3 separate regions of the Homo sapiens genome follow, and regions 1 and 2 are each reported to be linked to region 3. Evidence: microRNA targets listed by miRTarBase, many of them from high-throughput screens and not tested one by one. Region 3 holds a microRNA gene; each other region holds the end of a gene's coding sequence.

Region 1 (4,139 bases), not on the chromosome of region 3:
TTTTCATCCCCCAGGCTACAGTGAACAGAAAGGTCAGAGCCCAGATATTCTTCCCCAGCCCCCTGCTATAGCGTAGGTAAAAGGGTGTGGGCTTTGTGGCCAGAGAGAGGGTCAAACCTGGATTCTGTACCTGTTGGCTAGCTCTGTTACTTAACATCTGTGATATTTTCCTGATCTGCAAACTGAGGGTAATAATTGACCCTTAGCATAGTGATTGTAAAGATTGAAGTTGATGTGCACAAAGGTTCTGTTCAGCAATCTGCACATAGGAAGTTGAATGAATGGATGAATGAATGAATGCCAGCAGCTCTAAAGATTATTGTTATTCCTAGTCTTTGCCTCTTCCCCATCTTTCCTTGGCTTTAGTTCTTGCTCAAAACTCTCCTCCATTTTTTTCTTGTTTTGGTTCCCCAGGCACCTGGGAGTCCCATCCAGAGACCACGGAGCTGGTGGTTTTGCAGGGCAGGGTGGGGCCAGCAGGTGACGAGGAGGAGGAGGAAGAGGAAGAGCTGAGCAGCTCCTGTGAGGAGGAGGGAGAGGAGGACCGGGATGCGGATGAGGAGGGAGAAGGGGATGAGGAGACCCCAACCTCGGCTCCAGGGTCCAGCCTGGCTGGCCGAAACCCTTATGCCCTGCTGGGTGAGGATGAGTGCTGAGTTCCTCGCCCAGCGCCATCTTCCCTCCCAGTATCTTTGCTTTTGGACTGACCTGGGGGTATCTCCCCTCTGCCACCCCAATTGTGAATAAAGATTGTTTGCTTTGTAGCCCCTTCCCCAGATGAACTGAGGTGAGAGCGGCTGTTCCAGGCTAACAGCTGTGGGAGGCTTCTCTCCTCTTCTCCCTTCTTTTTTCATGCATTCTCTTTGCAAGGGAAAGTTCTCTTAGGAGTTTAGTAGGTTCTCAGTCTCTGAAACCTGCTTCCTCTACCCATTCTCCCACTCTGCACCTTAGGAATCCCGTTATCTACATGGGGAGGGGAGGTCTAAATCCAGCTCCCTTTTGGAGTTTGTGCCATTCTCCGATTTGAGCAGCAGCCCTGTGTGCCCCCTGCCGCCAGACCTGCTCATTCCAGGAGCTTCTGGGAGAAGGAACAGTAAGAGAGGAACTGTGTCCCAAGCTGATGTCTCTTAATGAGATTTTTACAGGAATTGTTCAAATTCAGCAAATATTTATTGAGGGTCTATTGTGTGTCTTGACCTGTGCTGAGCACCAAGCATATAAGGATGTACCACCAGAGCCTGACCTAAATTTGAAGCCTGGCCATGATCAAAACCCCACCTTCAGGCACCCAAGTTTTTGGATTAAGAAGGGTGAATGATGTTCTCCAAATCCTGGGGGCTCATGCAGTATAATTCTAGGACTTCATGTTGATACAAATTTTTAGTTAAGGCAAAACGCTTGTGAAAATGTTGATTAAATGTGTACGAGTAGTTTTAATTACTGGTGAACAACTAGCGTGCACATTTATGATTTGAGCAGAACAGCCCTTTAAGTACAGTGTTAAGTTTCATTGTTTAAAAGCTTGGCAGCTACGAGTATTTGAGGTACATAGGGGCGGGCACAGAACCAGCCTCCTGAATTCCATTTACTCTGGTTTGGGGGTGGAACAAAGATGATCCAGTGCAGGGTCTGAGCTAGAACCTAGCAGGTGGCCAGAACCATTTTAGGGTTTCACCTCAGCATTTCGGCAGAAATCAGCTCTCTCGTGAGTCAGGGCACCTTAGGCTTTGCTGTATATCCCTTTGTTAAGCCAGCAGCTAGACTCCTAGATTGAATTCTTTTAGAAATGGGAGAATGAGCTTTTTTATTGACTGCCAGTGTTGTCTGTATTGGATGATAGCAAAAAGTGTAGTTGGACAGGTTGCCCACTAGATGGAGTGAGAAGTACCAGACTCCTTTTTTCTCTAAAGCAGATCCTTTCAGGATCTGAGTCACTGGGCAGTTTCTCTAATGCGAGCAGACAGACCCTGTTAACCAAGGAGCAAAGGAAAGTATATTTAAAGAGGCTAAGGTGTTTGGCCACATATTGCTTTAGGTTCATCTCCATTGGTCTCAGTGTGGACATAACTCCTGGAATTCACTCCAGTGCAAAGTTTAAATAATACCAGCATGAGAATGTACTTGAAGGTTTCCCAAAATGTGCTAGACAAGAAAGAGAAAAGGTCCCAGCTGAGAGAAAAATCCACCTGTCTCCCATCTGGGGCTCTTTGGCCTCACTGATAGAAAAGGAAAAGGGGCCCAAGCTAAGCTTACTTTGAGGGTTCATGATGTTCAGAGATGCTCAGGGGACTTCTCCGCTGCAGGAGGTGGGGTGAGGACATTGGATTCATTTCCTCAAAATATGGAGAGAAAGGAGAAAAATCAGAATTCTATTTGTACCTCTGCTTCCTGTGCTGTTTATCTTTGCTTGTCTTTATCTTTTTCCACCTCAGGGGTTTCATCAGGGGTATTTGGGAGAGTCTAGGGGTGGGGATGAAGAATTGACTGGGAGCTGAGGAGGGGGGATTTTTATGCTGAAGACCTGGCAGGAGGCAACTCCTGACACCCCCACAGGGTTAGACTGTAAAACCTCTTCCATGACTTGCTGACTCTATAGGATAATAGCAACAGGAAAAGAACTGAGGGACGTGCAGATGAGGATGAATAGGGCCCCAACACCAGTGCCTGAGGCTGAGGTTAGAACTGACTACAAAGACACAGGAAACCAAGGGCCCAGTCTCCCCTCCACGCTGAAATACGCACCCTCTTGTCTGGGTCATGTCTACTATGTGAATACTTGACCATGGAGGTCTGGGGCTCTGGTGGCTTCCATAGCTGGCTAGTCTCTTGATGGAGAGAAATCAGGGCTTCTCTCATCCATGCTGGAATTTCATTTAGATGTCAACTTCCAAGTTTCCCTTTTTCCAGATGGGATTATAGTCCTGCTTCTGGAACAGGGTAGCTGTGTGTGGTCCAGGATAGTTCAATTATCTGGCCCTTTGTTCACTTCTTACAATCATTGATACAGTCAACAAAAATTGGTTAAAAACAATATATGCCAGACATATATCCCTGAGTTCTGGGACAATAACCAAAATTGAATAAGGCAATATCCTACTCTCAAGCAATAGAGGGTAGGAATAGAATAATAATAATATAATACAATAGCTCTATAGCAGTATGTAAACTATAAAAGCATTATTTTACGTGTTTCTATTGAACTGTCATAACTAAATAAGATGGTTAGTACTATAATTATCCCAAGGATTCATTCACTCATAGAACATTTGTTGAGCAATTACTACCTGCCAGTCACTTCCAAGTGGTAAGTGAGATAGAAATGGTTCTTTGTGGCGCTCACAATTTATTGGAGAATGGAAACACAATTACAAAAAAAAAGTGTGATAAGTTCTGGGAGAAGGGTGGTACAGGATCCTGTGGGGTAGTGGTGGCTCCATATAGGAGGGACATTGGGATACTGATCAGGAAGGAGTGGGGGACAGGGCTAGAAGCTGCATTAGTATAAAGTTATGTCAGACTGCCAAAACAAAACAAACACAAAAAATCAGTAGTCTGTGGTAAAGAATTGCTATAGGAACAGCCAGTAGGGGCAGTTAAGCTGGTCTTGGTGAATCAGGGGAAGCGTCCTAGAGGAACAGATGTCCATGCTGAGGCCAAATGCTGGACAGGAGTTAGCCAGACAGGGAAATTGCATTCTGGGCAGAGGAGACAGCAAAGGTCAAGAAACATGACAACTTTGGAAGACTGTAACTTGTTCAGAGGCAGAGGGTGCAAAGGAGAAATGAGGAAAGGTGAAGCTGGAGAGGTGGGCTTGGTCCAGCTCTTGCTGGGCCTTTTCAGCCGTGTTAAAGATTTAGACTGTATCCAGAGGGATGTTGAACTTTAAGCCTAAGACTGAAAAGGTGAGAATTGTGCCTTAGATCACTATGGTTGCAGTGTGGAGACTGGTTTGGAAAGGGGAGAAATCAGAGGCTTTTACAGCCATCCCAGGGAGAGAGAATGAACACCAGAATTAGGGTAATGGAAGATGGAAAGAAGAGAAATCGTTTTATGGGTTGCTCAGGAGATAGAATTGACATGTCTTGGGATTGTTTTGCTGTGTAGGGGAGAGAGACAAGTCAAGAGTATACATCCTGTTT
Region 2 (4,124 bases), not on the chromosome of region 3:
AGACAGACATAGAGCAATGAGAGGATAGAACACCAAGAAACAAACTCTTGTGTATATGGTCAAATGATTTTCAACAAAGATGCCAAGATCTCTTGATGTTAGAAAAGGACAATTTCTTCAGAAAACAGTGCTGGGAAAACTGGATATTCACAGGCAAGAGAATGAAGTTGGACCCTTATCTTATACCATACACAAAAATTAATTCAATATGGGTTAAAGACCTAAACGTAAGACCCAAAACTATAACACTCCTAGAAGAAAACATGGGGAAAAAAGCTACGTGATATTGAACTTGGCAATGATTTCTTGGATATGATGCCAAAATAAAAGCAAAAATAGAGAAATGGGCCTGCATTAAACTTTAAAACTCTGTGCATCAAAGGTCACAATCAGTGAAAAGGCAATGTACAGAACTGAAGAAAATATCTGCAAATTACGTATCTGATAAGGGGTTAATGTCCAGAATATATAAAGAACTCCTACATCTCCACAACAATAAATTAAATAACCTGATTTAAAGATAGGCAAAGGACTTGAATAGACATTTCTCCAAAGAAGGTATACAGGTGGCCAACAAGCCCATGAAAACATGCTCAACATGGATAAACAAAATGTGGCATGAAAATACAAGAGTATTACTGTAGTCCAGCCTTAAAAAGGACAGAAATCCAGTCACGTGCCACAACCTTAAGGTCATTATACTAACTGAAATAAGCCCGCCACAAAAAGACAAAAACTGCATGATTTCACTTATACGAGGTATCTAAAGCAGTCAAATTCATAGAAACAGAAAGTAGAATTGTGGTCACCAGGGGCTGGAGGAAGGGGGAAATGGAGCCTTGTTGCTCAATGGGTATATAGATTTGCAAGATGAAAAAGTTCTACAGATCAATTAGATCAATTTCACAACAATGTGAATATACCTAACACTGTTGAACTATTCACTTAAAAATGGTTAAGATCAACAACAACAAAAAGAACAAAAAAAATGGTTAAGATAGTAATTTTTTTGCCACAATAAAAAATATAGTTGAGATAATCAGGAAAAACTAAACACTAACTCTTCACACAGTTAACTGCATTTGAATTCTGTACTCATTTGTGACAGATACAGCTACTTAATACTCAGAGAGTGGAAAGAACACTTCTTTAAAGAGGTCAAAAATCTGGCTACTAGCCCCAAATCTCCTAACTAGCTATTAGATGATATTCAAGAATCACTGTTAATTTCATTGGATATGATAATGACACTATAGCTATGCTTTTTGAAAAAGGATTCATACTGAAGTAATTTTGGGGTAACATTATGTTTTCTATGATTTACCTTAATATACTCCAGCCAAAAAATAAAGAGTACAGGTGGGGCAGGGGTAGCTGAGAAAGGATGGCAGAGTGGTCTCGTCATGCTTGTTAAAGCTGGGAGAGAGGTACATGTACGAAAAGTTTAAAACAAACCAAACAAAACACGAGGGGAAGAAAAGCATGGATGGGTATTTGGAAGGAATGGCAGCAGGATCAATTTATTGAGATTTTGTGACAGCATCATATACTACAGACACTATTGCTGATTTTCAAAAAGCATTGCATTTCAATTTGCATCTAACAGATTAAAAATAAAGAAACAAATGAAATTGAAAGAATGATCAAGCTTCAAGTAACGTTTCTCACCACCTCCCCCGGCCACAAACAAACAAAAAGGTCCATGGTTTAAGAATGTTGAACAAAGGGACTAAAGGTGTCATGGAGACCTGCCCACCAGGGCCAGAATCTGGACAGTGATGGAGAAATTTCTGCTGCAAAAATGTCCGCCGCGTCAGGGAATACAAACCACATACGAGAGGGTGTTGATGTTGTTTCTCAGATACATAGGATGGACCTGTTTTCTTTCTGCTAATAGAAAGCAATCAGTCAAGCAAGGACTTCAGAGTGGATGAAGGGTACATAAGACCACACAATGATGGCATTCAAGAGAAAGAAAAGAGGTAAGGATGCAAAATTAAAAAAAAAATAGGACTTAATGAAAGCTAATTTCATCAAGCCCAGGTCACTGATGAGAAAGATGTAAAATCAAGAAACCAGTGAAATAACACGTAACAGGTGAGTCAAACATTACCAGCCGCATCAAACAGTGGAAGTGAAATGGCACCATCTAGCCCACCTGGTGAAATCCAAAGCGAGAACTTAAAGGGAGTAAGGATGATTCACAAAATGCGGTCGGGACACAAGAAAAGTGAGTTTGGAAGGACAGTGAAGAGAGAAAAAAGAATAAGGAAACCACCAAAATTTCAACTCAAAGATACATTTTAAACTGCATGGTATGGCCCACTGTCAATACCGTGGCTGCCTGGGAACAAAAAGGGTGGTCTCCAGATCCCCCAGAACCCCACTATACACCAGGAGGACAAGGAGGAAAGGAAGAAACCCCCTTTGCCTGCCAGAATGCACATGAGGGAAGGAAGGCAAACCCCTAGCAGTTGCTGCTTTGACACATCACCTGCCCCAGCAGCAGGCAGCTCGCTACCCACTCACATTCCCCAGGACTGGCTGCTCCATGAATCCTCTGGGCACCTGTGCCCAACAGAGTTCCTTAGCAAGCTCCACTGGAACGTTGAAAAATTAACATTGAGTGTTTACTGTGCACGCTGTGCCATGTGGAACTCATGCACAAGGCTTGATGGATCCCTCCTGACAAAACAATCTTGAGGTAGATACGATAATTATCCCCATTTTAGGGTTGATGGAAACCAAGGCTGAGTGAGGGAAAGTCACCCACCCAACGCTGCCCTATGAGTGAGCAGCAGGGTTAGCCTCTCCAGTCAGAGCGAGTGTCTTCACTCCCCATTGGAGGAAGACTTTCCATCACAAGCCTAAATCACCCAGCAGGAAACCAGCCCAGCCCTGTCTTCTCAGTGAGGCCTTTTCTAACACGGGTGCTTATCTCCATCTCAGGATCAAAGGATCTATTGCTTCTGGCAAAAGGGCAAAAGCACCGCTTTTACTGGGAGGTACAAGACCTGGTTTCTAGCCCCAAATCTCCTACATATCTTGTCATACTGCCTGTGCCCTATCTCTCTTTGCCTTGGTTTCCTTATCTCCAAATAGGGAAAAGCAGCCTGTCCCCAGTGAGCTCCCCGAAGGGTTGTATAAAATGAGACAAGGGAGGCAAAGCCCTCTGAATTCCTAAGCAGCCATGTTCTCACCATCACCGACCATGGCGCCCACCGTTCTTCTCCCCTGACCTTGCCCCCAAAGGCCCAGGAGCACAGACAGTTAAATAGCATCCCTCAAGGCCTGGAACAGGAGGAGCTTTGCATTCCAGTAGATTTTGCTGATGCCCTCAATAGAGGTGATCCTGATAGAATCAGAGGAAAAGAAAATATTCTTCTCTAGCAGCCAGAGGGCCCTTCCATCTTGCCTGTTCTCCCAAATTACCTGGCAACACTACCCCTTCCCCAGAAAGGCTCTGGATCAATGATTCTGGAAACCACTTAAGTCCTAAAGACAATTTTAAAACACCAGGAGAAAAATGCTCCTGCTCCTCCCCGCCCCACCTTCTAGAGGTATGCCTTTCTAGCAACCCCGAGGGGAGGTTCATCCCTGGGAGCTCTGCAGGAGAAGGTCCCCATTCCACATCATCTGGAAAATAGAGGGGAGTGCTAATATATGTGACCTTAGTGATCTCACAAGTGCATCAAAAAAAGCAACTGGCCAAGGAAATAGTTAAACCAGCCTGAACATGCCAGGCAGGCCCACCATAAGTCACTGTTTGAGTCAGGCTTGTGACCAAGGGTGTGTAGGCAAGGATGAGTGGGCAAGGCTGGAGGGGAAAAGCAGGCAAACCACTCTGAAGCAGGATGGAGGGTCGAGGACAAGGGCAGGGCAGAGGTGCACAGGGCAGGGCCAGTTCAGGGAGACCGCTGCAGGATGAGCTCTGTGATCTCGGCCCTGCTACCCAGCCTCATGGGTATCCCGTAGTAGGCTGTGCCTGGGCTGACATACACGAATGTAGCCTGGGCCACCTGGTAGAGACCAGCAAAGAAGGGATTCAGGAGATAGGCTGCTACGTTCAAGGGGAAGATCTGCCCAGCATGTGTGTGCCCAGAAAGGATCAGGTTAATATCTGG
Region 3 (4,139 bases):
TGTCTGTGTGCCTTCTGGGACTCCATCCCTGTATGAGGGGCCCCTGCACCCCTGCACTGTCCAGTGTTCAGTGTTGGGAGGGAAAGGCGCCCCAAGGCATGCAGGGGCCCTCTTTGCTGTGCAAGTCTGGTAAGTGGCACTGGTACGTCCGGATGCCCCAAAGAGCGGCTTTGTCCAGGTAAGTCCAGAGCTCAGGGCAAGAGGAAGGCGGGGTCAAAAAAGCTGAAGCAGATGTGGTGGGGGTGGGGGTGGGTTTGCTTGCAGGGTGTGATGGGGGTGAGGGAGGCACCACATCATCAGATGTCGGGAGGTTGGGGGATGGGGGTTGGGGGGCGGGGGCGGGAGCTCAGGGGAGCAGGAGCACCGGCAGTGGAGGTAGAAGAAGTCAGTGGAGCACCCGAGGTCAGTGTCCCAGGGTGGCCATCACCAGGCCGGGTGGGGGGCCCCGTCACCTGCTTGCTTGGCTGCGCCTGCTGTGCCTGCTTCTTCATCTGGCCACGCGTCATGGGGTCACTTCCTGCTCACCACTGCTTTCTCCCTCATGGATGTCACTCCCGGGCATGGGCTTGGGACCTGGAGAACGGAGAACTCGTAGCCCAGGGCTGGCGCTGGGTCTCTGAGGACTGGGTAGTCCGTTAGCACAGGTGGCATTGCTGGTTGATGAGTTGAAGAAGTTGTTGCCCTTCACAAGTGGGTTCCTCTTGGGTCAGGAGTGGCAGGAAGGGAAGCGAAGCAGGCTGAGGCGCGGGGAGGCCAGGGGACGTCGGGAGGTGTTGGGGTGAGAAATAGAGGGGACTCTTTGCTGGAGACAGGGAGGCGTCTTCAGTCGAGGTTAGCATCTTCGTCCTCATCAGGCAGCTCTTCTAGCCTTGCCTGCTCCCTGGGCTGGCTCTCCCAGGCGGGGATGGGCAGGGCCCGCCTGTAGATCAGGGTCAGGAACTGGCTCAGGGCCCTGGCTGCCTGCTCCCGGCTGAGCAGGTGCAGCTGGCCATCTGCACTGTGGATGTGGAGCAGGCGGCTACCAAGGAATTCCAGGACCTGGGGATCCATCAGGTGGCGTGGGCGGGGTGGGTGGGTGGCTGCTGTGTGGCTGGGTGGGGCCTCCTGCACGTCGTTGTCCTGCTTGTCCTGCGAGGTGTCTTGCAGGCCGTCATGCAGGCCACACTGACGGTAACGTTGCAGGTCGTCTTGCAGGGCTTCTCGCAAGACGACATCCTCATCACCAACGACGTGCAGCTCCAGGTAGCGGTTCTGACGCAGGGCAGGGAGGTGGCCCTCCTGGGGGGTGACTCTGACACCGAAGAACTCACACAGCGTCAGCCAGAAGCCAGGGGTGAACTGCAGGCCTCGGTGGGCCTGGGAGTGCAGAGCATTTCGCTGCCAGCGGCCAGGGCCCAGGAACAGCTCAGCCAGCTCCTGGGCTGGGATGGTGTTTGCACCTACGAGAGCGGGCATCTGGGTGAGCAGCTGGGTGATGGCTGTCGTGATGCTGCTGCCTGCGATGAGGGACGAATCCAGGATGAGTCGTAGGGAGCGCTGGGGCTGGGGCCGAGCCACCCGCATGGCGGGTGCCGGCCGCAGCGAGAGGCATTGCCTCACGCGCAGTAGCACGAGGATGGCTGCCAGGGCTAGGGTGTTCTTCCAGTACAGGAGGCCTCGGAAGAAGTGCAGAATGACGGCCCTGATCTGGGCCATGCTGAAGTGGGCGAGGAAGCTGTTGAGGATCTGGTCGATGGGTATCATGGCCAGCAGCTCTTGCCGTAGGATCTGTTCATTGAGCTCATCCTGTTCTTCATTCTCTTCTTCCCCGGATTCCGTCGATGGATCCCTGGGGAATCCCCTTGAGGCCAGCAGCAGGGTTTGCCTGGCGGCAGTGTTCCTCTGGAAGGCTCTCCTCCACCGGAGGTTTCTCACAGGTGGCAGAGCTCGGCCGCCGTCTTGTTCTGGCAGCTCCATGACGTCAAAGTTGAAGTGGGAGAAGAAGAAGACCCAATGCCCGGGGAGAAGTACGGTGAGCCTGTCATTATTCAGAGAGGCTAGATCCTCTGTGTTGAGAAGGATCATGATGGGCTCCTCGGTGTTCTCCAGGTAGCGGCACCACACCATGAAGGCAGCCCGTATTGGAAGAATCTTCATCTCCGCTTGAGAGTACTCAACCTCGATAGGGGAGATGTTGCGGGAGTAGAAAGCGCAGCAGGCTCTCTTGCCGGTTTGGTCGTCGATTTGGATCAGGGAGGCGTGCAGGGCCGTGCCGGTGACGCCGGTTTCCAAGTAGAATGGGTTCTGGGGCTTGGGGTGGTGGAGGAGAGGCGCCTTGCGGAAAGCCCTCTTCAGGCACTCGAAGGCCTCTTGCTCCTCGACTCCCCAGTAGAACTGGTAGGAGCTCAGCAGCTGCCGCACCAGGGGCTCTGCGATGATGCTGAAGCGCTCCACGAAGTGGCGGTAGGGGAAGACGAATTCGATGAAGTTTCGCAGAGATAGCTTGGAGCCAGGGGTAGGGTACCCTGTTATGATGGTCATGACGTTCTTGTTCAGTTTCACCCCTTTGGGGGTGACGACGAAGCCCAGGAATTCCACGGTTTGGCGGTGGAACTGGCTCTTGTCCAGGGAGCAGTAGACGTTGTGATGGCGGAAGCGGACCAGGACTTGGCGGACGTGGTGGAGGTGCTCCTCCTGACTCATTGAGTAGATCAGGACTTCCTGGCCATAAGAAAGCACAAAGAACCCTAGCATGTCCTTTAGGATGAAGTGAATCACGTTCTGAGGTATGATAGGGTCTGGGGAGAGCGCAAACGGCTGGTAGCTCTTCATCTCTTCAAGCTCCAAACCAAACGCTGCTTTCCACACATCTTCGGTGCGGTGCCCGTTCACGCTTTCCTCCACAATGGTCCCACGCAGCTCCAGTTTTGTGAACCACTCGGCTCCGTGTAACTGGTCAAACAGTTCCGGAATCATCTGTATGTAGTCCTGTCTGTTGGTCAGCATGTCCTGCAGGTCCCAGTATTCCTCCTGTAGCCTGGCTCTTTCTTGCATCCTGGCACCCACAGGTTCCCAAGGCGCGGTGGAGGGACACTCGTAAAAGGTCTCGCTGTGATCACTGTCTCCAGCCTGCTGAAGCTCAGAGGGCTCTGATTCAGAAAGATCATCGGATCCGTCTGAGCTTGGCTGGTCGGAAGTCTCATCATCTGCTTCCTTCGGGTTAAACACGTCGGCCAGGTCTGAGTATGGGTGTGGCAGTCCGGGTAGCAGGCTCATGCCGTGCCTCTCTAGGGCAATGCATGGCGGGGGCGGGCGGAAGCAGTTCTTCAGGCAGTAGGGAGAGTGGAAGGTGCAGCGGCCTTTGATCCAGTCGACTTCGGGGGCGTGGACTCGGAGCCAGCGGATGCCTAGGACCACAGAGAAGTTCGGTGAAGGTACGATGTCAAATTCGATGGACTCCTGGTGGTTCTGGTGGATACACACCAGGGGCTCCGTGTAGAGCCAGACAGGCTCGTTGCCAATCAGCGAGCCGTCCACGGATTGGACCGGCTGTGGGTACGGCTTCTCGTAGAGCTCGACGTAGTGCTCTTGGGCGAACTTCTCATCCATGAAGTTGCCGTCAGCTCCCGAATCCACCAGGGCCTGGACCGCGACGCTGTGGTAGGGGTTCACTCTCACCATGAGCAGCAGGAAGAGGTGGGCGCGATTGATGTCCGGATGGACTTCGCTGGGCAACCAGCTGCTGACCATCCACCTCTCTGGAGCAGGTGAGTCGATCCAGGTCAGGTTCCGGGGGCGGGCCTCGGGGGGCAGCCTGAGCATAGCTCTTCTCTCTGCCAGCTTCTCTTCTATTTGCAGGATGAGCACAATCAGACTGTCTAGGGAATCCGGCTGAGGGACCCGGAATAGATAGTGCCTGATCTCCTCGTTGAGCCCCTGGCACAAGTGGGCCTGCAGGACTTCATCTGGCCAGCCCAAGATGGGTACCAGGCTCTGGAACTCATCGATGTACTCAGTGGCAGAGCGGCCGCCCTGCCTGATGGTGAACATGGCCTCTTCTGCCACACGCAGTGCCTGGCGGTACTCAAACACTTCGGACATGGCCTCCAGGAAGGCTGGGAAGTCTCCGATCAGGGGGCTGTTTTCCTGCAGTAGAGCTT

What was found. Region 3 holds the annotated microRNA hsa-miR-433-5p (UACGGUGAGCCUGUCAUUAUUC, at 2,008-2,029, shown strand). A microRNA usually pairs through its seed, bases 2 to 8, with sites in the 3' UTR of a target mRNA and lowers its output. Matches are read on the target gene's strand: a 7mer-m8 pairs with bases 2 to 8, a 7mer-A1 pairs with bases 2 to 7 and ends in A, and an 8mer does both.
Region 1: the mRNA of GNL1 is a reported target of hsa-miR-433-5p. The part of its 3' UTR that is shown has no 7-base or 8-base seed match.
Region 2: the mRNA of TMPPE is a reported target of hsa-miR-433-5p. The part of its 3' UTR that is shown has no 7-base or 8-base seed match.

What each region holds. Positions count from the first base shown.
Region 1 is chr6:30,542,589-30,546,727 of GRCh38, reverse strand. GNL1 (G protein nucleolar 1 (putative)) reads left to right here. Exons shown (of 12, transcript NM_005275.5): 11 at 1-32; 12 at 415-4,139. The coding sequence ends at 656. Among named protein-coding and RNA genes, the nearest start is that of GNL1, 12 kb to the left of the region's middle.
Region 2 is chr3:33,088,929-33,093,052 of GRCh38, forward strand. It overlaps TMPPE (transmembrane protein with metallophosphoesterase domain), which reads right to left. Exons shown (of 2, transcript NM_001039770.3): 2 at 1,494-4,124. The coding sequence ends at 3,906. The region is part of intron 1 of GLB1 (galactosidase beta 1); the gene reads right to left. Among named protein-coding and RNA genes, the nearest start is that of GLB1, 6.2 kb to the right of the region's middle.
Region 3 is chr14:100,879,890-100,884,028 of GRCh38, forward strand. MIR433 (microRNA 433) reads left to right here and starts at 1,997; the gene lies at 1,997-2,089. RTL1 (retrotransposon Gag like 1) reads right to left here. Exons shown (of 4, transcript NM_001134888.3): 4 at 1-4,139. The coding sequence ends at 823. MIR431 (microRNA 431) reads left to right here and starts at 1,118; the gene lies at 1,118-1,231. It overlaps MIR127 (microRNA 127), which reads left to right and starts at 3,090; the gene lies at 3,090-3,186.